3 separate regions of the Homo sapiens genome follow, and all the other regions are linked to region 2. The links come from fine-mapping of genetic effects on gene expression. A gene starts in region 2. Each other region holds a variant in brackets. All regions are shown on one strand. Distances are from middle to middle.

What was found.
Region 1: its variant is fine-mapped to the expression of URM1 in breast (GTEx, PIP 0.98).
Region 3: its variant is fine-mapped to the expression of URM1 in esophagus mucosa (GTEx, PIP above 0.99). The same link has a PIP of 0.9 or more in sun-exposed skin.

The regions. Positions count from the first base shown.
Region 1 is chr9:128,402,710-128,410,256 of GRCh38, forward strand. No RefSeq gene overlaps it. Among named protein-coding and RNA genes, the nearest start is that of MIR219A2HG, 13 kb to the left of the region's middle. RefSeq lists an enhancer at 2,048-2,848. The variant T/C (reference allele first, on the strand shown) is at 4,540.
Region 2 is chr9:128,368,338-128,374,439 of GRCh38, forward strand. URM1 (ubiquitin related modifier 1) reads left to right here and starts at 3,037. Exons shown (of 5, transcript NM_030914.4): 1 at 3,037-3,078. The coding sequence starts at 3,044. RefSeq lists enhancers at 1,344-2,208, 2,209-3,072, 3,136-3,235.
Region 3 is chr9:128,394,223-128,399,222 of GRCh38, forward strand. No RefSeq gene overlaps it. Among named protein-coding and RNA genes, the nearest start is that of MIR219A2HG, 3.2 kb to the left of the region's middle. The variant T/C (reference allele first, on the strand shown) is at 2,342.

The DNA.
Region 1 (7,547 bases), 35 kb after region 2:
CTCCCAAGTAGCTGGGATTACAGCCATGTGCCATCACGCCCAACTAATTTTGTATTTTTAGTAGAGACGAGGTTTCTCCATGTTGGTCAGACTGGTCTTGAACTCCTGATCTCAGGTGATCTGCCCACCTCAGCCTCCCAAAGTGCTGGGATTACAGGCATGAGCCACCACACCCGGCCCTAGGTTTGTTTTAGACCTAAGTCTGCGTATCTGCAAAGACCACATTCTTCAATACTTCACCACCTCACTCCTCTTACTCTATTGCCCCAGTACCCAGTGAAGTAGGAACCATTGGAAGTTAAGGAGTTGGGACTCACGAGAGTTCAAGACCATCCTGGACAACATAGTGGGAACCCATCTCTGCAAAAAAAAAAAATTAGCTGGGCATGGTGATGGGTGCCTGTAGTCCCAGCTGCTTGGGAGGCTGAGGCAGAAGGATCACTTGAGTCTAGGAGGTTGAGGCTGCAGTGAGCCATGAGTGTGCCACTGCACTCCAGCCTGGGTGACAGAGAGAAACCATGTCTAAAAAATAATAATAATTGGGACTTAGACATACTGTATAATTCCATTTACATGAAATATCCAGAATAGGCAAATCTATTGAGACAGAAAGCAGATTAGTGGTTGCCTAGGGCTGGGGAGAAGGGCAGTTGGGGAGAAATGGGGAATGATGGCTAATGAGTATGGGCTTTCTTTCTTTCTTTCTTTTTTTGAGATGGAGTCTCACTCTGTCATGCAGGCTGGAGTGCAGTGGTGCGATCTCAGCTCACTGCAACCTCCGTCTCCTGGGTTCAAGCAATTCTCCTTGCCTCAACCTCCCGAGTAGCTGGGATTACAAGTGCCCACCACCACGCCCTGCTAATTTTTGTATTTTTCTAGTAGAGATGTAGTTTCACCATGTTGCCCAGGCTGATCTTGAACTCTTGACCTCAGGTGATCAGCCCACCTTGACCTCCCAAAGTGCTGGGATTACAGGTGTGAGCCACCACGCCCAGCCTGAGTATGGGCTTTCTTTTCAAAATAATGAAAATATAAAATGGCTTGTTGTGATGGTTGCACAATTCTTGAATATACTAAAAGCTGTTGAATGATACACTTTAAGTAGGCAAATTGCATGGCATGTGAATTACATCTCAACAATGCTGTTATGAAAAAAAAAGAGGCCGGGCACAGTGGCTCACACCTGTAATCCTAGCACTGGCCGAAGCGGCTCACACCTGTAATCCCAGCACTGGCCGAAGCGGGTGGATCATGAGGTCAGGAGATCGACACCATCCTGGCTAACACGGTGAAATCCCATCTCTACTAAAAATACAAACAATTAGCTGGGCATGGTGGTGGGCACCTGTAGTCCCAGCTACTCCGGAGGCTGAGGCAGGAGAATGGCGTGAACCCGGGAGGCGGAGGTTGCAATGAGCCAAGATCCCGCCACTCTGCCACTGCACTCCAGCCTGGGTGACAGAGCAAGACTCCATCTCAAAAAAAAAAAAAAAAAGATAAAAAGAGAGGGATGGGGCTCAGGAATCCCACCTCTGCCACTTACCTGCTTGGCACATGACTTCATACCTCCCAACCTCAGCTTCCTTAACCAATAAAATAGGAAAAATAAACATCTCCTGGGTCTTTTGTGAGGATTAAATGAGATAATACATATTATTATTCCCATTTTATCAAGGAGGAAACAGGCCCAGAGAAGGGAAGTGACTTGGGTGCAGATGGCACAGCTGGTGGGTGGCAGGTGAGAGACTCAGGCCTGGGTCTCATGGCACCACCCCATCTTTTAGCATTGTGTAGAGTGGACCAGTGTCTGCACACTCCACCCACCCCTTCACCAACACTCTCTTCCATCTCCCTCCTTCTCTTGGGCTCTGGGGCCCTGTCTCCCCACTGCTCACGCTCAGAACAAGTGGAGGTGGCTGAGTCCCCCCAGAGCACAGGACACCCTCTCCCCCAGCCCCCACCCTGCTCCCCTCCTGGGGCCATGATGCTGTCTTGCTTTTGCTTGTAATAAAGAAAATATCTCAGCTACCCTTCCATGGTTGCTTGGCAACCCCGAGGGGGGTTGGGTGGGGGGGACCAAGGGGAGGAGGGATGGGGGAGGATTCTGGAGCCAATCTGGAGACAAAGAGTAGGATTTGGGTGACATGGAGCCTGTTCTTAGTGCTAACCTGGCCTGGCTGGGGCGGCGGGTGGGGGCAGCGGGCTTCCTCCCACCCCAGTGTCTCACACCAATAAATATGGATTAGGGAAATGGGCTGAGTTTTTCCCACGGGCCTGAAAGGCCGCATCTGACCTTTCTACCCCCTTTATGTACCAATGTGACAGTCAGAGACAGCAAAGAGCAGGACCCCCTGAGATGCCTCCCCCATGGCCTTCTGACTTGGGGAAACTTTTCACCCTCCTCCTTCCCCTGGCCACAGACCAGGTCACAGCTCTGCCTGGGCCCTTGTTCCGGGGATGAGAAGGAGGCTGGTTTCCAGGTGGGCGCCAGGAGCTCCCATCCTCAGTGTCCACTCCGGGCCCTGCTGGCCGTGACCGGTGCAGAGCCAGGCTGTGAGGCCCTGGACTGGTTAGTGACGGCCCTGCCTGCCTCCTAGACAGTCCTCTGCTCTGTGGCTCCCCCATCCTGTCCCTGCCCCATCTCTGCCTGGGCCGCCTCCATCAGGAGCCCTATCGTCCGTGTCCCTTTGCGTCCCTCTCCTCAGATACTTCCCACCACCCTCTTCTCGACTTGGTTTCCCTCTTTCTCTCCTCCTGCCAGCCCCCCACGCCCCAGTCGTCCATGAAACTAGGAAGCCCTTGTGGCTGAGGTATCTCCTGCAGTGAAGAGGGCAGGAAGGGTTGTGGAGGGGGAGGTGGGGGCCGTGATCTCACTCCCTGGTGCCCTGACTTTCTGGTCGTTGGCCGGGGGTGGGGATCGGCTGCTCTGAATGGAGTCAGTGTAGAGGCAGGAAAAGCAAACACCTCCGTGTGGGCCCTGCTGGCAGTGGATGGGAGCGGTCGGGGGGCAGGGGCCTGGGCTCCTCTCAGCCTCCTTGATCAGACCTCTCCCCACTCCTGAGGCTCCCTGTCTTCCTGGACCTTTGGCCTACAGTGTCCAGAAGGAGAGTGGGGTGAAGGTTTAGGGGGAAGCCCTCTGGGAGACGTCTTTGCTCAAATCTTTCCCTGCTCCTCTGCCCAACCCCCAGCCAGTGCCCTTCCTGCCCAGCAGATGCCAGGAAAATCTGTGCCCGGGAAGGGCGGTCTGGCACCTGAGGGCCCCGCCTGACCAGTCCTTCTCAGCAGCAGGAGCTGGGTGGGAGTCACCTTATGCCAGAGACGCCCCAGCAGTGCCATCCACCTCCTGGGCTGAGGAGTACCCCCAAGAGGCTCTGCCCGGGTGAGTGCTCCTCTGGCCCCACAGCCAGGCAGTGAGGGAGGGAGAGGTTGTCCATGTCGGGGCTCCCCAAGACCCCCACAATCTCCGTGAGTCCTCATGGTTCTGTGGCCTTTTCTGTTGTGACTGTCTCACCCTCTGTCTGGGACTCGTGTGTCACTGATGGTTTGGTGAGGGGAGCTGAAGGGATGGTTAGAGAAGCTGGAGGAGAGGGCTGGGAATGTGAGGAGGTAGGAGGGGCTGGAGTCTAGGGTATAGGACTCCTGGATTCCCAGCCAGGTTTTTGTGTTTTATTTTTATTTGTATGATTTTTAAATTTCTGTTTTAAAAGATGAGGTCTCTCTTGCATGGAATATATCTTTATATTAAAAAAAAAAAAAAAAAGATAAGGTCTCACTATGTTGCCCAGGCTGGTCTTGAACTCCTGGGCTCAAGCAATCCTCCCACCTCAGCCTCCCTAAATGCTGTGATTACAGGCCTGAGCTACCGCACCCAGCCTAGCCAACTTTCTGATTAGATTTGTGAAATCACAGAGGCTGCTGTAATGGTTTCCTTTTAACACTTTGGATTCTAAAAGACCTTTGGAATGAGCTCAGAGAGAGTTAGCAGTTCATCCCGGGTGACACAGCAAACTGCTGGTACTCAAACCCACCAGGCCCCCTCATCACACCGCAGGCTGTTTGTGTTATGGAAGCCATCTTTGACCACCTCTCTCTTTCCCTCTCCACATGCAGTTTCCCCCTGAATTTAAGAGGCTGAGGGGTGGAGGGAGCCGACTCTGCCTAGCACCTCCAGGCCTTTCCTTTCTGTTGTCTCTCCAGGCACCATGCCCAGGGCCCAGCCTAGTAGCAGGAGCAGCCCCTGCCTGGGCCTCAGAGCGCCACAATCTCCTCTGACTATCCCTGGGAAGCCGTGGTTGGCTTTTGCCTTACATCCCCCAGAGAATGGCGTCTTTGTTCTTGGTGTCTAACCATAGTCCCTCATGTTGTCTTTAAAGCCCAACCACTTCCCAAAAAGCAAGGTCAACAGCTGACTGCATACCACAGCACCCCAGTGGTTCCTGCTTTGAGGTGGGACCTGGCTGGGGGGACCCTGCCGAGTAGAAACAGGCATTCCTCACTGGGTCAGGCTCTGTTCTGAGGTCGTCCACGTACCTTGCTGAA[T/C]GGTGGTCACCACATTCCTGCAGTGTGGAGTCAGTTTTACAGATTGGAAAACTGAGACACGGAGCATTGAAGTGACTCATCTGTGGACACACTGCGAGAAAAAGAGCTGGGATTCAAGCCCATAGCTTGGCTGCAGAGCCCAATCCCTTAAACGTTCTTCCATAGTGCCTCTGATTCCTAGGAGGCCTCCGCTGGAGGTCATTGCATTCAATCCCCTGCATCTGGATGTCTACCCAGGCCCACCTCTGTTCACAGATAAAAATCAATCAAGCTTTTTTTTAAATAAACTTTATTTTTATTTTTTGAGACACAGTCTCACCCTGTCGCCCAGGCTGGAGTGAATGGCCACCATGCTTGGCTGATTTTTGTATTTTTTGTAGAGATGGAGTTTTGCCATGTTGCCCAGGCTGGTCTTGAGCTCCTGGGCTTAAGTGATCCACCTGCCTCAGCCTCCCAAAGTGCTGGGATTACAGGCGGGAGCCTCCCAAAGTGCTTGTCCAACCTCGTTTTTAAAGGCAACTGCAGCTGGGCACAGTGGTTCACGCCTGTAATCCCAGCACTTTGGGAGGCCAAGGAGGGCTGATCACAAGGTCAGGAGTTGAGAGACCAGCCTGGCCAATATGGTGAAACTCCATCTCTACTAAAAATACAAAAATTAGCCAGGCGTAGTGGCGGGTGCCTGTAGTCCCAGCTACTCGGGAGGCTGAGGCAGGAGAATCGCTTGAACCCGGGAGGTGGAGGTTGCAGTGAGCCAAGTTCGCGCCACTGCACTCCAGCCTGGGTGACAGAGCGAGATTCTGTCTCAAAAAATAAATAAATAAATAAATAAATAAATAAATAAATAAAGGCACCTGCTCCAAGGATGGAATTTCCCCTGGGGATAAGCAGACATTTCTTTATTCATAGCCTTCTGGCAGGGAGGGAAGACCCTCCCAGCCAGAACTCACCATGTCCAGCTGCCTCGTTGTTCCTCTCTCCTTCCCACTGGAGTATAATTTCAGGAAGGAAGCGGCTCCGCCTTGAGTATTGGCTCCACAACCTCCAGGCTGTGTGGCGTTGGACAAATGACTGAACTTCTCTGAGCCTTAGCTTATCAAGTGTAAAGTGGAGCTAATTATACATCTGCTTTGTGAGTCTGAAAAAGTTTACATGATAAAAGGGTATGAAGGTCTGAAAGGGCTTAGTGAGCACAGTGCCTGGCACCTCTGAAGTGCACAGGACCAAGTGGCAAATACTTCTCACTGCATCCTGAGGGGTCGTTCCCAGACCCTGAGATCCCACCCAGCCACAGCCAAGTCACCTTCTGGGTTGTCTTACTTAGCCATGGGATTGTCCCTGTTCCCCTGTCCCCTCCCTAGTCCGGGTTCTGGCCTCAAGAAAGAAGGCCCTAGGGGTAAAGGAGTTGGAGGAGGGGGGCTTGGCAGCACCACCATCACCACTGTCATCATCCTCATTGAAACTCTTCTACCTGCAAGATCAGAGCCTCGTGCTTTTGGCCTTATAGTTTAGCCTTCTTACTACAGATAGGGAAACTGAGGCCCACAGTGGGGAAGGACTTGCTCAGGGTCACGTAGCAAATTGGTGGTGGAGCAGGAACTAGCTCTCAGTCCTCCACATTCCCGGTTGGTTTCCCCTGTCTCTTCTTGATGACTGCCCACCTCAAGTCCTCCCCTGGTGTGCCTAGGGTGTGGGGCCTGGCACCCAGTCCTGCCTGGCAGAGCCTGGAGAGAAGTGAGCCGCGGTTGGTGGAGTAGTCGCAGCGGCCCGGCGCGTTCTCAGCCCGGCTCTTTGTCTGCTGCTTTGTGATGGTAAGTGCTGCTCCTAAATCAGTTCTGTGACACTGTTATTGTTGCCCAGGGCGCAAAGAGTCTAAACTTTTCCCCTGAGGTCAAGAATGTGGCTGGTCCCCAAGCCGCCCAGAGCAGAGGCCTGGGTGGCTGGGGGTGGGGATGGGGCCTCGCCCCGAGCTGGGGCGAGATGTTGGGGGGAGGGGGTCAGCGGGAACAAAACGCTTTGAAATGCCTCCTCTCCATCACTGCCAACATTGTCCGCTGCCCGCGGGGGGCCTGGCACCGCCTCGCCGGGGCTCCGGCCCCCAGCCCTGGCCAGGCGCGGCCCGACATCTGAAAATGGACAGAAGGTTATTGTCCCTTCCCGCAGCCCTTTGTCTGCCCCAGTTCCAGATGTCTAGGCTGGGACCAGGGAACTGACCCATGGTGGGCAGGGGGGAGAGGACAAAAAGGGAGAGCACGGGTCACTGCATCCTGAGGGGTCGTTCCCAGACCCTGAGATCCCACCCAGCCACAGCCAAGTCACCTTCTGGGTTGTCTTAGCCCTGAGATTGTCCCTGTTCCCCTGTCCCCTCCCTACTCCAGGTTCTGGCCTCGAGAGAGAAGGCCCTAGGGGTACAGGAGTCAGAGCAGGGGACCTTGGCAGACTCACGGACGGGGCTGAATCCAGCTCCACCCGGTAACTGTGTGATCTTGGACAGGTGTGGCCCTCTCCCAGCCTGCTTTCCCCATGTGGGGACCACGGACCAGGTTCATTCACAGGTAATGATGGAGCCCTCCTACGTACCAGCTCTGAGCTGAGCATGGGGGCACGCGGTGGTGCATGGGCCACTTGGATCCTGCCCTTGACCATTGTGGTTAAATAGAAGAGTAACAGGCAGCATTTCCCACCCACTACCTCTGGGTCAGGTCCTGGGCTAATCACTTCATCTGCGTCATCTCATCCTTTCCATAACAAAATCAAAGATGCAGAGGCGTTTTTCCTGTCTCCATTTTGCAGCTTTGGAGACTGCTAGACTCTTGAGAGGTCCAGTCACTTGCCCAAAGCCAGGCAGTCTGGAGGCAGCAGAGCTGGGATTCTAGCCCAGGCCGACCGTAGCCACCAGGAGGAGTAATTCGCTAATAAATACTTGGAAAGAATCGAGCACAGAACCTGACACAGCTCCAGACTCAGAACTGGTGGTGTTTACTCCATGCATAGAGTGTCCCCATTCCACA
Region 2 (6,102 bases):
CTGGAGTGCAGTAGTGTAACCTCCGCCTCCCAGCTTGTGCCTCAGCCTCCTGAGTAGCTGGGACTACAGGTGTGTGCCACCATGCCTGGCTTTTGGTAGAGATGGGGTTTCATCATGTTGCCCAGGCTGGTTCTGAACTCCTGGCCTCAAGCAATCCATCCACCTTGGCCTCCCAAAATGCTGGGATTACAGGCGTGAGCCACTGTGCCTGGCCAGGGCCTGCATATAAAGCTGGTAGTTGTACTCCTAGATCTTTACAAAAAAAATTTTTTTTAAATTAAAAATTCTTTGGCCAAGCCAGGTGCAGTGGCTCACACCTGTAATCTCAGCACTTTGGGAGGCCAAGGCGGGCAGATCACCAGGTCAGGAGTTCGAGACCAGCCTGGCCAATATGGTGAAACCCCATCTCTACTAAAAGTACAAAAATTAGCCAGGATGATGGCGCAAGCCTGTAGTCCCAGATACTCGGGAAGCTGAGGCAGAAGACTCTCTTGAACCTGGCAGGCAGAGATTGCAGTGAGCCGAGGTCATGCCACTGCACTCCAGCCTGGGTGACAGAGCAAGAATCTGTCTCAAAAACAAAACAATTTTTTTTTGGCCCAGTGTGGTGCCTCACACCTGTAATCCCAGCACTTTGGGAGGCCAAGACAGGCAGACTGCTTGAGCCCAGGAGTTTGAGAGTAGCCTGGGCAACATGGTGAAAACATGTCTCTACAAAAAAATTTTAAAAATTAGCCGGGCATGGTGGACTAGAAGGAAGGAAGGACTTTATCAGTGCCTGTGGTCTCAGCTACTCTAGAGGCTGAGGCAGGAGGTTCCCTTGAGTCCAGCAGCTCAAGATTACAGTGAGCTGTGATCATGCCATTGCACTCCGGAGTCTCACTCTGTCATGCAGGCTGAATGCAATAGCATGATCACGGCTCACTGCAGCCTTGACCTCCAGGCTCAGGTGATCCTCCCCTCACAGCCTCCTGAGTAGCTGGGACAGGCACACTCCACCATGCCTGGCTGATTTTTGAAGAAACATTTACAGACATAGGGACTTGCTGTGTTGCCCAGGCTGGTCTCAAACTCCCAGCCAGAAGCAGTCCTCTTGCCTTGGCCTCCCAAAGCATTGGGATTACAGGTGTGAGTCGCCACACCCATTCCACCTGAACTCCTAGATCTTAACTATTACATCATTCTGCCCTTAACCACTAGGCTACACCATCATCCTCTACCAATGCTGAGTTCAGTTTTGGAAGTGTTGGTGTTTAGATACCCATAGGCCGTCTACTTCATTCCATTTCTTTTTTTTAGCGTCTCACTCTGTCGCCCAGGCTGGAGTCCAGTGGCACGATCTCGGCTCACTGCAACCTCTGCTGCTTCCTGGGTTCAAGGGATTCTCCTGCCTCTGCCTCCAGAGTAGTTGGGATTACAGGAGACTGCCACCATGCCTGGCTAATTTTTGTATTTTTAGTAGAGACAGGGTTTCACCATGTTGGCTAGACTGGTCTTGAACTCCTGACCTCGTGATCCGCCCATCGTGGCCTCTCGAAGTGCTAGGATTACAGGCATAAGCCACTGTGCCTGGCCAACTTCATTCCATTTCTGCCCTGGGCTTTTTTTTTTTTTTGAGACAGAGTCTTGCTCTGTCACCAGGCTGGAGTGCAGTGGCTCGATGTCAGCTCACTGCAACCTCCACCTCCCGGGTTCCAGCGATTCTTCTGCCTCAGCCTCCCGAGTAGCTGGGACTACAGGCGCACGCCACCACATCCAGCTAATTTTTGTATTTTTTTAGTAAAGACAGGGTTTTGCCATGTTGGCCAGGATGGTCTTGATCTCTTGACCTCGTGATCCGCCTGCCTCGGCCTCCCAAATTGCTGGGATGACAGGCGTGAGCCGCCGCGCCCGGCCTGCCCTGAGCCGCCGCGCCCGGCCTGCCCTGAGCTTTTGCAACAGGCTCCAGTGGTCTCCGTGTCTCTTTCCTTATTCCCCTCAAATCATTCTCCATATTGCAGCCAGAAATTATATTTTAAAACACAATTCTAAAATGTCACTGTCTCCCAAAACCCTTCAGTAGTCTCCCACTGCTCCTAGAGACTGAAATGTTTACCTGCTTACAAGGCAGGGGTTGGCCCCTGAGCACCTTTGCAGCTCCCTCTCTAGATGGATGAAAGTCAGGCTCCCTAACTTCCACCTTCCTCTCCATGTTCCAGCATGTTCTCACCCAGAGCCTCTGGGCCTTTTGTCCTCCTCACTGGAATGCTCCTAGAGGTTTCTCTCCCCTCACAGCCACCTAGTTTACTCAGGTTTTAGAGCCCAGCAAGTCCAGTCTACTCAGTTTTCTTTTTGAAGTTCCTATAACTTCAGTTCCTTTATTTAAGTTTGAGGTTGTACATGTCTTAGTATGCTTATTTGATTACAGTTAGTCTCCCCGCTAGACTGTGAGTGCCCTAAAGGCAGGAACCTTGCCCATCCCCTTTACCACTAGCACCGATCAAAATGCCTGGCACAGGGAGGCGCAATGAACAGCTGTTGAACGAGTGACTTCCAAATCGACAGCAAAGGGGGCGGCTGGATAGCGAGTCGCCCGCTCAGGAGAGATTCTGGGTCGGAAATAAAGATCTGGGAGTCATTTATAATTCCAACCAGACGAGTAGATGGGCTGGCCCAAGCGGTGTGTAGACTGAAGAGATTCTAACTCATGCAAGATAAGCAGCTACGTGGCTCACGGTCACGTCGCAAAAAACCTGGGGGCTCTCCTCCGCCTGCTTGTGGTCCCGTACAAGGCGCTTCCCACCCTGGGTCTCTGAGCCCAGTCGGTGAAAGACGGAAGGAGACCGATTCACAGCCCCAACAGCGCCGGTGATAGTCCCTCTGCCACCCCTTTCCCTCCGCTGCCCTCCCCTCCCCTCCCCTCCCCTCGATGACTTCCTCCAACAGCTGACGAAGCTGGATCCCTGGGCACCGCCTCTTCCGTCCGCGGCACCCGGAGACGCCCGGAAATTTGCGGGCGCGCCGGAAGTTGAGGGGAGTTTCCTGCGAGCTCGGCTTCCTCAACATGGCTGCGCCCTTGTCAGTGGAGGTGGAGTTCGGGTGAGTCACAGAGCTGGGGCGCCGTGGGGATGGATTGAAGTCGTCGGGCCCAGAATTCCTTTCCTTCTGCCGTGGGGCCTGACACGGCCGAATCACTGGGTGTCCCAGTGCCCGCTGTGAGCTACGCTACCCGCCTAGGAGAGTCTGAGAGGCCAGTCTCTCTTGGCAGTGAGGCCGTCTGTCCGGAAATAGAGGCGCACATTGGGAGGGAAATGCTCTCTGTGTACCACTCGGTGCCCTGTGCTCCGCCGGAGTCGGAGGTCGTGACTGTTAGCAGGCAGCCTCTCTCTCTTCTTTTCCATTCCTATCTCGGACCAATCCCATCTGTTTGGCATCTGAGCTCCTAGAACCTAGAAGGACCACCCTCCACCCGCTGATTTCATTCTTTGGGCAGCAGTTTCTTTTTACACTGTTATTAAGGTCTTGTTTCTCGTGGGATGTAGTGGCCAGGGCGGGACTTTTTTCTTTTTCTTTCCTAAGACTTGGGGATGGTAAACAGACCTGAGCCTCCTTCAGGACAGTCAGTAAACTTGCTGATTGCCTTCTGCAGAACTGGAGTCAGGTGGAGACACGGGGACAAATAAGAAATCACACTGAAGGGAACTAACAGGGACAGTATAGTATACACAAGATGAAAAATGCAGAGATTGGGACACACACCAGTTACTGAAGAAACACAGAGCAGGGAGGAAGTCTACCCAAGGCACTATTTGTGCTTCCTACAAACAGGTTTGTCATATGGTTTCAAAGCTGAGGGAAACTGCAGAGCTTAGAGAGAAGGCAAAGAAACAGGCCTTGAAAGATGGGTGGTGTACTTTACAGTATCACGTGGAAAAGAGGAAATAGGTAGGGATGTGTGTGTGTGTGTGTGGAATAGGTAGGTGTGTGTGTGTGCCTGTGTGTGTGTAGATAAGCCAAGGTCTATGTGACAGGAAAAGTCTGGGATGGGAATCTAAAACCTCTGCCCAGTGCCTTTCTTCTCATTGGATGCCTCCCATTTCTTTCATGTTTTCCCTTAATTGGGTAGTTCATTCACCAGCCATTTATTGAGTGCCTACCATGTGCCGGGCAGCAAGCCAGACACTGAGGATACAAAGATAAATAGAAGTCTGTCCGTGCCCTACAGCGTTCAGCATTTCTGCCCCTTAGAAGGGGGGTAAGTCTCATGACTAAGTGCATTTTAATTGATATTGTCTGGCTGCTTGGATCCAATTAGAACTGTATTGGTCTGGACTCCTCACTGTTTTGCCTCACTGACCCTTGGCCCAGCTACACTCCCCAAAGCCTGGGATTCTAGGAGGATCCCTGCTTCCTTGACAGGCCTCAGCAGAGCTGGAAAGAGAGAAGCCACAGACTGCTGTGTTAAGATTTATCTGGGCCAGGCATGGAGGCTCATGCCTGTAATCCTAGTACTTTGGGAGGCTTGGGCAGGAGGACTGCTTGAGCCCAAGAATTCGAGACCAGCCTTGGCAACATGGGGAGACTTCATCTCTACCAAAAAAAAAAAAAAGAAGATTTATCTGCAGACAACTTGCCTTTCATCCTCATGAGTCAGACATGGTCTTTGTTTATCAACAATGTCTCTGCTAGGTACTGTGCTAGCTCAGTGGGGAAGTCATGTGAGGAAGATGGGGCCATTGCTCTCCAGAGCTTACAAACCAGCACAATTGCCCTTTTTCTGACCCAATCATCTCTAACTTCAGTCTCCCTTACCTCCAAGAGCAATAATGACCCCTGGCAAGGCAGGACAACATTCCTCCACCCACCCACCCACCCACCCACCTTCTATCACCTCCTGTCACAGCACAGCGTTCCATGAAAATTGCAGCATTCTCAGGAATGCCCAACATGATGCTCAACCCAGGTTCCTTCTCTCTTTGTCCTTGTGTTGATGCACGTTTTTGCCCTGACCTTTCTTTCATTTCCTATGTATCTTAGCAGACATGATTCACCCTTATCCAGAACTGGAGCAAATTTGCAAAGGCTAACACGCCCTTCATTTTCTCTCTTTTGTCCCTTAGTGGCCCCACTCCCACTCCAGTTCTGGAAGGGTCTCCCTCCTGAGCAGATGTAGTCCTCTTGGCCCCACCAGCTCCTCCAGAGACCCTCTGGAAGGCCTCTAACACCTTCCTTCTTGTCAGTGACCACGTCTGCCACCCTTTGTCTTCCCCCTGAATTGTTCTCAGCAGAGCGTTTTCTCAGGTCACGCAGGATTCAAAGTATGTAATATAGTTGTGTTTTGTGTCCCTGTGGTCCATGTTGTAAAGGCCCAGATATGGAGTTCTCTCCGTCCCACCCCTCTTCCTCCTTCCCAAGTTGGGGAGGTATTGGCAAAAGGAGGGAATGTCATTGAGGTCAGAGAAGAACTGGGAGAAATGGGCATTTCCTTTCCTTTAGCAGATATTTGTTGAGTGTCTACCATGTGCCAGGCCCTGTTTTAGGCAGAGCTTGCAGCCCAGCAGGTGGAGAGGAAGTAAATAAACAAAATATATATATACGTGTATATGTATGTGTATATACAGAAGATTAAAAGATGAAGATACATCAGAAAAGGTGAAGGTGGTTTTGAGAATATCTATACCTGTCACTGGTATCTACAAACACATCCACCAAGAATTGGGGGGGTTGAAGGAAGATGGAGATATGTCAGTTGAGTTTGAATAGCAGATCTTATAAGACATAAGAGAGTCTGGCCTTGGTCTCTCCTGGGCTAGAACAGGCCCCTTGTCTGCCTCCCTGAATCACTCTTGAGGCTGGGCATGCACCTTCCCCCACTCCAGATGTGCTGACAGCAGAAATGCCAACCCCTCCCTTGAGGGCCAGTGAATTCAGCAGTGACAGGTCACTCTCTGAGCGAGACTGGTTCTCCCTTCATCCGCTTGTAAAGGGAAAAACAGCCTCGGCCTCTGAGCCTGGCACCACCAGGTTTGGCCAGTCTTGGTTGTTTGCCTAAGTCCCAGTGCCTTCAGTTCCCATCCCTCTTCTCTGACCCCCAACTCCTGAGCCCCTTGCCTGTCACCCTCC
Region 3 (5,000 bases), 25 kb after region 2:
CGCCCCCAGCCCCACCCCCAGCCTGGTCTGGCAGAGACGGTTCTCAGTCTATTGGGTAAATACATAGCCAGCTTCTCACCCCCAAAGCCCAGCCTGTCTTTCCCAATGAACCTCACACCCTAAAGTGGGAGTGTGTGGCCATTTTTCCCATACAGCCTGCCTTCCATTCACCCCAGAGTTCTCCAAGCACCCAGAATACCCCTGCCTCTGTCCTGGCACACCAAGCTGCCTTGCTCTGAAATGCTCTCCTGTCCTCACAATCTCTGGGTGGCCTTGCCACGTGCCCGGCTGAATTGTGAATATCGGTTTGTCTGAGTCTCCTCCCTAGGACAGGAAACGGGTCCTACGGATCTTTGTGCCTCCAGGGCCTAGTACAGTGCCCTCCCCCCAACCAATCATTAAATATCTGTGGGTGGTTGCACGCATGCCCGGTGACTTTAAAATGAGCCACATAGACTTCTTGGAGTTTCTTATAAAAGTTGAAAGAATGTTGCTTGTGGGAGGTAATTCTTGCAGCCCGGGTTTTACAGGGAGGGAGTCCTGCTAACCAGATCCCAACTCCTGGGAATGCTCCATTTGGTAATAATAACAGCAAAGAGTGTATTGTGTGCCAAGCACTAAGCTCTTTGAAGGTAGTAGCTCACTGATTCCTCACAACAACCCTGGAAAGTAAGTGCTGTTATCAGCCCCATTTTACAGATGAAGAAACTGCAGAGCCCTCCTTCCTTAGGCTCCTCCCTGGAGCTTCCAGCTGGAGAGGGAGGGGGAGCATTCTGGAGGTCACAGGGTCACTCCCTGAGAAGACCATGCTGGAGGATAAGACAGAAGGCATGCAGCCCCAATCCCCAACCTCCAGAGACCGCACCCACTAGGGATCTAGAAACCCAGAGCTTTAGGACTTGCTGCACACTCTAGTTTCCAAGCCTTTATTTAGTGGGTACAGAGGGGATGGATGTAAATGCACTTAAAACGGCTAGACCCAGGAGACACTCTGTGTCACCTTATATTAATACATTATAATCCAGTCCCAGCCCACCCCAGCCTGGCATGAACACAACCAAGATGGACTGGGCAACAATAGTCTCTGATTACCAGGTGCCATGGCTGGTGTCCATAATCCCAACACTTTGGGAGGCCGAGGCTGGAGGCCAAGGCAGGAAGATTGCTTGAAGCCTGAAGTTAAATACCAGCCTGTGACAGGTGAGGTGACTCATGCCTGTAATCTCAGCACTTTGGGAGGCCGAGGCGGGCGGATCACTTGAGCCCAGGAGTTCAAGACCAGCCTGGGCACATGGCAAAACCCCATCTCTACTAAAAACACAAAGATAAGCCGTGTGTGGCGGCAAGCGCCTGTAATCCCAGCTACACAGAAGGCTGAGATATGAGAATCACTTAACCTGGCAGGTGGAGGTTGCAGTGAGCCTAGATCGTGCCACTGCACTCCAGCCTGGGCAACAGAGAGACTTGGTCTCAAAAAAAAAAAAAAAAAAAAAAAAAAAAAACCAGCCTGGGTAAAAAAGTGAGACCCCCATCTCTACAAAAATAAAAATAAACTATTTATTTATTTATTTTAAGAGGGAGTCTCGCTCTGTCGCCCAGGCTGGAGTGCAGTGGCACAATCTCGGCTCACTGCAATCTCCACCAACTGCGTTCAAGCAATTCTCCTGCCTCAGCCTCCAGAGTAGCTGAGATTACAGGTGCCCGCCACCATGCCTGGCTAATTTTTGTATTTTAGTACAGATAGGTTTTCACCATGTTGGTCAGGCTGGTCTCAAACTCCCGACCTCAAATGATCCGCCCTCCTCAGCTTCCCAAAGTGCCAGGATTACAGGCCTGAGCCACCACACCTGGCCAAAATAAAGATTTTTAAATAAAAATTTAAAAAAGAGTTGGGGGCTGGCCGGGTGCAGTGGTTCACACCTGTAATCCCAGCACTTTGGGAGGCCAAGGTGGGCGGATCACGAGGTCAGGAGATCGAGACCATCCTGACTAACACAGTGAAACCCCGTCTCTACTAAAAATACAAAAAATTAGCCGGGCGTGGTGGTGGGCGCCTGTAGTCCCAGCTACTCCTCGGGAGGCCGAGGCAGGAGAATGGCATGAACCCGGGAGGCGAAGCTTGCAGTGAGCCGAGATCGTGCCACTGCACTCCAGCCTGGGCGACGGAGCGAGACTCCGTCTCAAAAAAAAAAAAAAAGAGAGTTGGGGGCTCCCAAGCTAGGTCCTAGCTGCCTTCTAGGAGAAGGGCTTTTCTGTCCCCAGGGTACATTAGAGCCAATTTCTTTTTTTTCTTTGAGATGGAATCTCGCTCTGTCCCCCAGGCTGGAGTGCAGTGGCGCGA[T/C]CTCGGCTCATTGCAAGCTCCCCCTCCCAGGTTCATGCCATTCTCCTGCCTCGGCCTCCCGAGTAGCTGGGACTACAAGCGCCCACCACCACGCCTGGCTAATTTTTTGTATTTTTAGTAGAGGCGGGGTTTCACCGTGTTAGCCAGGATGGTTTCGATCTCCTGACCTCATGATCCGCCCGTCTCGGCCTCCCAAAGTGCTGGGATTACAGGTGTGAGCCACCGCACCCGGCCAGACAGCCAATTTTTTTTTTTTTTTGAAACGGGTATCTCCCTATGTTGCCCAGGCTGGTTCTCGAAATCCTGGGCTCAAGGGATCCTTTCACCTCAGCCTCCCGAGTAGCTGAAATTTGACAGGAATGTTCCACCATGCCCAACTGAGGTATTTAAAGCCCATCAGTACTGGGCAGAGAAGTGAGTTGCCCTCACCCGCACCCTCAGGGAAATGAGGAGCCAAGAAGGCTGCTAACTGCAGCCACTGAACAGATATTGATGGAATGCCTACTGTGTGCTCGCCCAGGACTCGGCAGAGGACAGATGTCCCCAGAGGAGACGCACAGTGTGGGACAGAGGCAGATCCTGGGGGAGGAGGAGTGGGGAGTTAGGTGAAGGCGGGCACTGTCCCAGGCGGAGGGAACAGCGTGCTCTAAAGAAGTACTTGGCGAGCTCAGAGAAGGAAGGAAATTTGGTGTGGCTGGAGCGCAGTGAGGAAGGGGAAGTTCCACATAAAGCTGAGGTCGACCTTGCCAGGCTCTTAGGCTATTGGGAGGATTTGCGATTATATCCTAAACGCGGTGGGGATCCTGAAAGGTCTGACAAGTTCAGATTTACATTTTTAAAGGTTTGCTGGGACTGAAGTGTGGAGAATAGGGGGAGGGGGGATGGGGGGATAGGGCAAGTTTGATGACCAGAGACCAGTTAGGCTACTGAGCCAGGTGAGGGCCAGCGGTGGCAGAGCAGGCTCTGGAGCCGTGTTCTTGACGGTCTATCTGAGTGATTCTCCATGAGCAACGCTTAGTGGACCGATGTTTGCAAAGCACTGTGTGTGCGCTGAAGGTAGGGGAAGGGAGAAAGGCAAATAGTGTCATTGCCCCCCGGAAGTACCCGGTATCCAAGTGGACCAACAGACACAAATACCCAGCCAACTCTAATGAAAGCAGAGCCCCGGGAAAGCACGGTAGCTGAAGAATTAGCAAGGTTCTGGGGATTATAGAAGACAGAGATTCATTCCAACAGGGAAGCTGTGGGAAGACTTCAGGAAGAGCCAGCATTGCCTTGGGCTTCCAGGACAAGTGATTCCAGGAGGCTGAATCTTAGTGACAGCCTCTGTGCCTATCCATCGTGCCTGTCCTGCCTCTCTAGAAATGGGTGGGTGTTAGGAGGATCCAAACACCCTCTGCATGTGCTTGCAGTTAAGTAATGTGTCATCATGAGCTTCCACCATCACCACCATACACCCCGGGTGTGCATGCGCACACACACACAGCACACACACACAACCAACTCTCAGGAAGATGGCAGAGTCAGCAGGATGCAGTGGCTCACACCTGTAATCCCAGCAGTTTGGGAGGCTGAGACGGGCGGATCACCTGAGGTCAGGAGTTTGAGACCAGCCTGGCCAACATGGTGAAACCCCGTTTCTACTAAAAATACTATAATTAGTCGAGCGTGGTGGCAGGTGCCTGTAATTCCAGCTACTCAGGAGGCTGAGGCAGAATTGTTTGAACCCAGGAGGCGGAGGTTGCAGTGAGCTGAGATCCCACCAGTGCACTCTGGCCTGGGTGACAGAGTGAGACCTTGTCTCAACAAAAAAATTAAAAAAGAAGACCAGGCGCTGTGGCTCACGCCTGTAATCCCAGCACTTTGGGAGGCCGAGATGGGTGGATCACAAGGTCAGGAGATCGAGACCATCCTGGCTAACACGGTGAAACCTCATCTCTACTAAAAATACAAAAAAATTAGCCGGGCGTGGTGGCGAGTGCCTGTAGTCCCAGCTACTCGGGAGGGTGAGACAGGAGAATGGCGTGAACCCGGGAGACGGAGCTTGCAGTGAGCCGAGGTCACGCCACTGCACTCCAGCCTGGGCAACAGAGCAAGACTCCGTCTCAAAAAAAAAAAAATTAAAAAAGAAGACGGCAGAGTTGTCCACACTGCCAGTTAAGCAAGCCCTTCCTTCCCACCAGGACTGGCTTTTTTTTTTTTTTTTTTTGAGACGGAGTCTCGGTCTGTCATCCAGGCTGGAGTGCAGTGGCGTGATATCGGCTCACTGCAACCTCCACTTCCCGGGTTCAAGCAATTCTCCTGCATCAGCCTCCCAAGTAGCTGGGACTACAGGCACGTGCCACCACACTCAGCTAAATTTTGTATTTTTAGTAGAGGTGGGTTGAGACCAGGATGGTCTCAATCTCTTGACCTCATGATCCACCCGCCTCAGCCTCCCAAAGTGCTGGGATTACAGGCGTGAGCCACCGCACCCGGCTTTTTTTTTTTTTTTTTGAAGTGGAGTCTCACTCTGTCACGCAGTCTGGAGTGCAGTGGCACAATCTCCATTCACTGCAACCCCTGCCTCCCAGATTCAAGCAATTCTCATGCCTCAGCCTCTCAAGTAGCTGGGACTATAGGTGTGTGCCACCATGCCCAGCTAATTTTTGTATTTTTA